Linked DNA regions of Homo sapiens. The protein of the gene in region 2 purifies or fractionates together with the protein of the main gene of each other region. This does not show direct contact. Each region holds a gene or a part of one and is shown on either strand. Other genes may lie near its edges.

Region 1 (3,924 bases), on a different chromosome or scaffold from region 2:
GAATTAAATTCCTGGCACCCTTTCTCTGTAAGATTGTCTTCTCTATGCAACTTGATTACTCCTTCCTCTTTTCGGATTTTCTCTTTCAGTTTGGGAGCAGGAGAAACCCTTGTTTATTTCACTGCAGCAGCATGCTGAAGTGGGGACTGCAAGAGTTCCATGAACCAATGAAATAACAGCTCTGAAATTGTTTTGTACTTAATCACAGGAGCTTTTTTGCTTTTGCATTTCAGATAAGTGTTATATAATGATCACTGGATCAGTTAGAGTTTTTGAAACTTTTCCCCTAGTTAGGTAACTACTAAAAGAACATTGTGAAAATTCCAGAGAAGTATAAGGAAGAAAGTATCACTCACCTATATTCCTGTGGTTGAGTAGACAGTTTTGATCAGAGGGAGGAATGTAGAAGGGAAATTTATTTATTTATTATAGGAGAAAGGAGAAGGTATCAGTTATTGAGCATAGATAGACATTCAAAGAAACCTTGCAGGTCAGCCAGGCCTTGAGAGGAGATGGGGAGAGAGAAAGAGACAGAAATAGACAAAAGAAAACAGGCAGAACTCTGGAATGGTTTGCATTCTTCTGAAAACAGTCAGAGGAACCAAGAACATAGTAGGCATCTGGCCAAGTAGAGTTCAGTGCAGTTAAGGTCTTGGTCAAGGCTATGCATGTGTGTTCCCCAGTCTCTGGTTTTTCTGGCAGTAGAGATCCCTTCCTATGGTAATGGCATTATGATAAAAATCTAAAGCGTGTTAAAAAAAATAGTAATTTGCTGAGCATGGTGGCTCATGCCTGTAATCCCAGCACTTTGGGAGGCTGAGGCGGGTGGATGACTTGAAGTTAGGAGTTCGAGACCAGCCTGGCCAACATGGTGAAACCCTGTCTCTACTAAAAACACAAAAATTAGCTGGATGTGTTGGCGGGCGCCTGTAATCCCAGCTACTCAGGAGGCTGAGGCAGGAGAGTTGCTTGAACCCAGGAGGCGGAGGTTGCAGTGAGCCGAGATCTCGCCACTGCACTCCAGCCTGAGAGACAGAGTGAGGCTCTGTCTCAAAAAAAAAAAAAAAAAAAAAATTAGAGGAGAAGACACAAATACTCTAGCTAGCTCCTCTTTAGTGGGGAGGACAGGGAAGGGTTTGGGCCAAAGACAAAGACTATGGATATGAAGGGAAGGAATCTGTATTACAGTAAAACAGTTGACTTGAGTTTGCTCCTTAGTGCATCTGAGTCTTACCGAAAGGTTGCTTCTCCTGTAGACTGTCAGTTTAAGTGTTGATAATCAGTTGTATGGGTCACTTGTCTATGCTGTCTTGCTTGTTCTCAACATCATTGCCCAGAAGGATCTATGAATAGAAGAAGTTGCCTATTTCTTGGTTGGAGGCTTGTATAAATTGCCTAGGACTGGGACTGTGGCTTGGATAGCTATTCCTGCCCTTCCTATCATCCCAGGAAGGTTGGGCCCACCTGGGGAGAGAAGTAGAATAAGGAATTAGTACCTACCACCCTCGATTTGTTAATCTGAGCCCAAATTTTGAGTCTTACTGGATCTGTAAAGTGAAGTGACACCAGGCTTGTTTTTGTTCAGTGCTGTATATAGCAACTAATTGTGAGAGGATTGTAGCTGAGACCTTTATTATCTAGCTTTATGTCTTTGATAAATGATCAAAGGATATAGGGAATTATTAGATGTTAAGGCAGGCACATTGATTCAAAGACATTTGACATCTTGTTTCAACCTAAGCATTTTCATGGAGAGGAAGCAAGTCAGTCTGATGTTTGTATTTGCTGTTGTATAGATGACCACAGTGGCCTCTACACCATTTCCTTGTTGTCTTTCTCAGTCAACGTCGCTTCTCCGTGATGTTGCTGGAATAATCTTGCTAAAATTCCACATTGGTCATCAGGTCACAAGTTTGCTTTAAAAACCCATCACTGTTTTTCCTAATCAAATCTAAGTCTTTCATAATGCTCTGCAGTCTGGGTCCACCCTAATTGTCTAACTTAGAAGTCTCACAGGTTTCAGTTTTTTCTGTTTGTGTCCTGGATACATGTCTTTACCCTTTCTAGGAATTCCTCCCCGCTTCTCTCCACTTACACAGATCCTCCCAAATCTTCACTGCCCAGTCAAGGCTTCTTTCTGTGCCGAAGCCTTCCTAGACCTTCCCTGTTCACTCTTCTCTGCACTGCTACAACCCTCACAGCCTTTACTACACAATGCCACACTTCATTCTAATTGCTCTTACACCATGTGACTTCATGGAGTGTGTTAGCTTTCATTTCTCTGATAAGAGCATATTTCTTGTGAGGGAAAGTATCTTCTGTGTTCTTTTTGTAGCACATAGTAGGCACTTGTATTTGTTAAATAATTGATGATGCATATGGTGAGCTCCTTGCATCCCTTTTCTGTGGATATGCACACTTGGAAACTGAGTTGGAGCTGAGCATGCTTGTCATTGCAGCATGATTACATGTGGAGTCTGATTGCAGAGGGGTTTTGCTTTTGGTCCACATTTGATTTTCATGTAAGTAAACTAGGTTATGCTTAAAAAACAATAAGCGATATGAGAACATGTTTTTGACCTCTTCTGCAGTATACGCCATCCGAGAAGCTGCCACCAACAACCTCATGAAACTAGTTCAGAAGTTTGGTACAGAGTGGGCCCAAAATACTATTGTTCCCAAAGTGTTAGTAATGGCAAATGATCCTAATTACTTGCATAGAATGACCACTTTATTCTGCATTAATGTAAGTATAACATAACTGTTATTGCTAAGCTTAATCATTAAAGCAAAATTATTCATGACTATTTCTGAATTATCAGTATACTGTCTTCTATTTGGAATATATGTCTTGTATTGATTAATTGGAATAGACAGGAGATGAGAGAAAATGTCAATTTTAAAATTCATGTTAAAATCTACAGTATTGGCTGGGCACAGTGGCTCATGCCTGTAATCCCAGCACTTTGGGAGGCTGAGGCGGGCAGATCACCTGAGGTCAGGAGTTTGAGACTAGCCTGGTCAACATGGCAAGACCTTGTCTCTACTAAAAATACAAAAATTAGCCGGGCATGGTGGTGCATGCCTGTAGTCCCAGCTACTTGGGAGGCTGAGGCAGGAGACTCCCTTGAACCTTGGGCAGGGGGCAGAGGGTGCAGAGGTTGCAGTGAGCTGAGATCGCGCCACTACACTCCAGCTTGGGCGACAAGGCAAAACTCCGCCTGAAAAAAAAAAAAACAAAGAACAAAACTACAGTATTTTAAAAGTTCAACTTATTTGTGAATTCTGGTCTAATTCTCTGATCATTTGAATGATTCTTGTGTCCCCCACTCAGCTGCTCAAACTAGAAATATTTTCCTATTGGTCAATTATTTTCTTATTAAATATTAATTTGTTTCATTAGATTTTGGAATTTTTTAAAGTATTTTAAATGTGCCATCTTACTTATTTTTCTAGGCACTGTCTGAGGCCTGTGGTCAGGAAATAACTACTAAGCAAATGCTGCCCATCGTATTAAAAATGGCAGGAGACCAAGTAGCAAATGTTCGCTTCAATGTGGCCAAATCTCTACAAAAGATTGGACCAATTCTAGATACCAAGTAAGATTTTAGTGTTTAGTCTTGTTTTAAAAGTGTACTTTAAATTTTACCTTATAGTGGGGAGTAATTAGCTAAAATTAAGTTCAGGGATTTTCACTTTACTTAAGATCTGGGTTTGCTTAAAGAAAATAATTTAGCAACTATTTTTGAGGATGTCCACTATGACTTTTATATTTAAGCTCTGTAAATGTGTAGATCCTTGTCTGAAGCTGATTTTGCTGAGAATTTCTTTAGACATTATTTTGTGTATTTGTCAAGTTTATAAATGTCTTTATTTTTTTACTTTAAATTTTAACAATTACCATTAACCATATACACCAAAAAG
Region 2 (4,498 bases):
AAAAAAAAAAAAAAAATGAAAGAAAGAAAGAAAAGAACATTTTTAAAAAATTTACGAAGGGGAAAATGGACACAAAAAAGAAGATATACAAATGGCCAGTAAACATACAAAAAGGTGCTGAACATCATTTCACATCAAGGAAATACAAATTAAAACTATGATGAGGCTGGGTGCAGTGGCTCACACTTATAATCCCAGGATTTTGGGAGGCTGAGGCGGGCGGGAGTTTCACATGGTGAAACTCTGTCTCCACTAAAAATACAAAAATTAGCTGGGTGTGGTGGCACGCACCTGTAATCCCAGCTACTCGGGAGGCTGAGGCAGGAGAATGGCGTGAACCCGGGAGGCGGAGCTTGCAGTGAGCCGAGATTGCGCCACTGCACTCCCGCCTGGGCCACAGAGCGAGACTCCGTCTCAAAAAAAAAAAAAAAAACAAACCAAAACAAGACAAAACAAACCAAAACAAAAACCTATGATGAAACTGCACCACACAACCAATAAAATAGTTAAAAGACTAACCATACCAAATTACGGAGAGGATATGAAGCAACTGGAACTCTCATACATTGCTGGATGGAGTGTAAACTGGAACAACCACATGAGAGCTTCGTAGTATCTATTAAACATTAGCCTACCCTATGATCTAGCAATGCCACTCCTAAGTATTAACCCGGGAGAAAAGCCTTCATGTGTTCACCAAAAACACAGCAGAGTGTTCACAGCTGCAGCATCATTTGTAACAGCCCCAAATTGGAAGCTACCCAAATATCCATCAACAATGTAATCGACTAATATACTACAATATATCCCCAGTATAGTGAGAGCTAAGTACAATTACACTGAACAACATGAATGAATTTCACAAACATAATATATAACAAAAGAAGCCTGGCATAAAACAGTACATGCTGCATAATTGCATATATACATGAAGTTCAAGAATGTGTAAGACAGCCAGATGCACTGGCTCATGCCTGTAATCCCAGCACTTTGGGAGGCCAAGGTGGGCGGATCACCTGAGGTCAGGACTAGCTTTGCCAACATGGGGAAACCCTGTCTCTACTAAAAATACAAAAATTAGCCGGGTGTGATGGGTGCCTGTAATCCCAGCTACTCAGGAGGCTGAGGCAGGAGAATCGTTTGAACCCAGGAGGCGGAGGTTGCAGTGAGCCAAGATTGCATCACTGCACTCCAGCCTGGGTGACAAGAGCAAGACTCTGTCTCAAAAAAAAAAAAAAAAAAAAAAAAAAGAATGGGTAAAACTAGTTAATGATAGAATTCTGAATAGATTGTGTGGGGGAGAAATTACTGAGAAGTGGTATGAGGGAAGCATCTCAGGTCCTGGCAAAGTTCTTTGTATAGATCTAAGAGTGTTACACAGCTGTACACTTAAGATTTGCACACTTTATATAGGCTCTATGTATCTATTGACAGCCTCCTGCTCTGTTGCCCAGGCTGAAGGGCAGTGGTATGATCATGGCTTCCTGCAGCTGCAAAGCACTGGGCTCAAGCGATCCTCTCATCTCAACCTCCTGAGTAGCTAGGACTTATAGGTGCCAGCCACCATGCCCGGCTAATTTTTTATGTATGTATGTATTTATGGTAGAGTTAGGGTCTCACTATGTTGCCCAGGCTGGTCTCCAGCTCCTGGCCTCAAGTGATCCTCTCACCTTGGCCTGGCAAAGTGCTGGGATTACACGCATGAGCCTCCACACTTGGCCTACAAAAATTTTTTTAACTCTTGGAACTATGCTTTGGTAGGGATATGGAGCAATAAGATATTTCAAACATTGCTGTTCAAGTACAAATTTGTGCAGCCACTCGGGTATATATTTTGACACTGTTTAGTAAAGTGGAAGATATATGAACCGGCAATTCTGCTGGTAAATAAACTCAAGCATGTGTACCCCATGTGAAAGAATGTGGCTGTGTTGTTTATAAAATGAAAAGCTATAAATAACTAATAGGGCATCATTACTAGAAAGGATGAATAATTGTGGTATACTTCAGAAGGGAGAATATAGCAAAGAAATTGAATTAACCGCGATTTTATCTAATAGGGATGATTCACAGAATTGTAAAAATAAACCAAAGACAGTATGACAACATTCATATAAAGTTTTAAAACGGGGAAAAACTGGAGTATAATGCCTAGAGAAGTATACGTAAGTGATAAAACCTCACACTGTGTGACTTACCCTGCCACACAAACCTGATCACACTCCCACCATGGGGACATTCAGCTACAGACAATCCACGCCCAAAGCAACAGGGTCGCACACGCAGGGCCTCTATCGGTCACATAAGCACAAGTGCACGCTTACCGAGGAGGCAGTCACAGTCACAACCACATTGTCACAGTCGGCGCACACCTGTACCGGGTCACAGTCACGATCACACATTAACCACAGCCACACACACAGATAGAAACATGCAGTTACTCGCAGGTATCCCCACCTGAACTCTGCCGCACACAGTCACACAGCATATAGTCGCACACCACTACGGGGACAAACGCAGTAACACTCAACCAGGCACAAGCTCCCCACAGCCGCACACACAATGCCGCACGTGGTCCTGCTCCCTCTCACACACACACCAGCAGCCACAGTCTCCGAGGCCGTGCTGCACACGGTGTGAGCGTTGGAAACACACTCATCACAAGGGCAGCCTGTCACAATCGCGCGATCATTCACCACACACCTCCACACAGACGCAAGCGCACGCTTTCAATCTCACCTCCACCGCCGCACAAAGCCGAGGCTTGGCCCCCGGCCCCGCCCTCTCCCGGGTTTCTCACCTCAGGCCTTACCAGCTTTCGAAGCAGCAGAACCCTCCCCGGCACTGGGGTAGTTGCTGGTAAAGCCCTGAGGGTCCCGCCAGCGCGTGAGTTGGAAGCTGAATTACCGCGAGAAGTACAGTCTTGCCGAGGAGACCTCTGGGAAGCGTAGTCAGAGACGTATCAAGGCCGGACAAGATGGTTCCCGATCGTCAGAATTCCTGTCCGCGCCTTGCGTCAGCCCCGCCGAAAGGATCGCCCCCCCTAGTCAAACCGCTCGCGCCCCAGAGGCCTCATGGAGTCCCGCCTCAGGCTCGGGCCTTGGCCCCCAAAGAAAGCCACTCCGACGTGTTTGAGATGGGCTTAGTTCCCGGACCCGTCCTACTGCCCCCAGGCGCTGGACAGCCTCAGAAAGAGGACAAGTCTGCATGGAAAGATAATCGCACAACTGAGCCTTCTGGGAGATGTAGTTCGGAGCTGGGAAGGCGGTTGGACCCTCCGAAAGTCATCTTAATTGCTCTCACAGATAAGCCGGTGCTGGGCTGCCGGCCTGAGTACTGTGCGCCCAGAGTGCGCAGGCGCAAACATCCTGGGTTGCTGTTTTGGCCTCTTTGTTCGGGCGTGAATTTTGTTTATTGCTCCTTAGTGCAGAGGGGTTATGGGACCAGAGGTTGTGAGACTCAGAAGTGGTTGGGGACGCAGAAGGGGTGTAGACCAGGAACCTGCGACCTGATGGGGGGAGGTCGAAGGGAAAGGAATCGCCAAACGTGGGACAGGTTTGGAGAGGCAGAAAGAGAGGAGTCTGAAATTGCAAAGGGCAGGTGTTATTCTGACTTCTGTGTGCTTTGTGATAAATGAGTGGGGCAGGAAGTAAGAGGAGTTTCACTTTCTCCTTCTGCAATTATTTGTGTACTTGGACTAAGTGTATCTCATGGCCAGTATTTGACTGCTTTTGACCTATAAAGGTATTGTATACACAGTCATGCATAGTTTAATAATAAGGATATATGCTCTCCCCACGGTCTCCCTCTCCCTCTCTTTCCACGGTCTCCCTCTGATGCCGAGCCAAAGCTGGACTGTACTGCTGCCCTCTCGGCTCACTGCAACCTCCCTGCCTGATTCTCCTGCCTCAGCCTGCCGAGTGCCTGCGATTGCAGGCGCGCGCCGCCACGCCTGACTGGTTTTCGTATTTTTTTGGTCTCCACCAAACACAGGGTTTCGCTGTGTTGGCCGGGCTGGTCTCCAGCTCCTAACCGCGAGTGGTCCGCCAGCCTCGGCCTCCCGAGGTGCCGGGATTGCAGACGGAGTCTTGTTCACTCAGTGCTCAATGGTGCCCAGGCTGGAGTGCAGTGGCGTGATCTCGGCTCGCTACAACCTCCTCCCAGCCGCCTGCTTTGGCCCCCCAAAGAGCCGAGATTGCAGCCTCTGCCCCGCCGCCACCCCATCTGGGAAGTGAGGAGCTTCTCTGCCTGGCCGCCCATCGTCTGGGATGTGAGGAGCCCCTCTGCCTGGCTGCCCAGTCTGGAAAGTGAGGAGCGTCTCTGCCAGGCCGCCCATCGTCTGGGATGTGGGGAGCGCCTCTGCCCCGCCGCCCCGTCTGGGATGTGAGGAACGCCTCTGCCTGGCCGCGACCCCGTCTGGGAGGTGAGGAGCGTCTCTGCCCGGCCGCCCCGTCTGAGAAGTGAGACCCTCTGCCTGGCAACCGCCCCGTCTGAGAAG

Evidence for each region.
Region 1: the proteins of ZNF566 (region 2) and PPP2R1B purify together in Homo sapiens (co-immunoprecipitation; one large-scale study listed by IntAct). This does not show direct contact.

The regions. Positions count from the first base shown.
Region 1 is NC_000011.10:111,742,198-111,746,121, reverse strand, and holds part of PPP2R1B (serine/threonine-protein phosphatase 2A 65 kDa regulatory subunit A beta isoform), read left to right. Parts: intron 1-2,591; coding exon 2,592-2,746; intron 2,747-3,456; coding exon 3,457-3,599; intron 3,600-3,924. UniProt on the Homo sapiens protein: The PR65 subunit of protein phosphatase 2A serves as a scaffolding molecule to coordinate the assembly of the catalytic subunit and a variable regulatory B subunit.
Region 2 is NC_000019.10:36,486,674-36,491,171, forward strand, and holds the start of ZNF566 (zinc finger protein 566), read right to left. Parts: upstream 2,889-4,498; 5' UTR 2,813-2,888; exon of another isoform or gene 2,801-2,812; intron 2,763-2,800; exon of another isoform or gene 2,740-2,762; intron 1-2,739. UniProt on the Homo sapiens protein: May be involved in transcriptional regulation.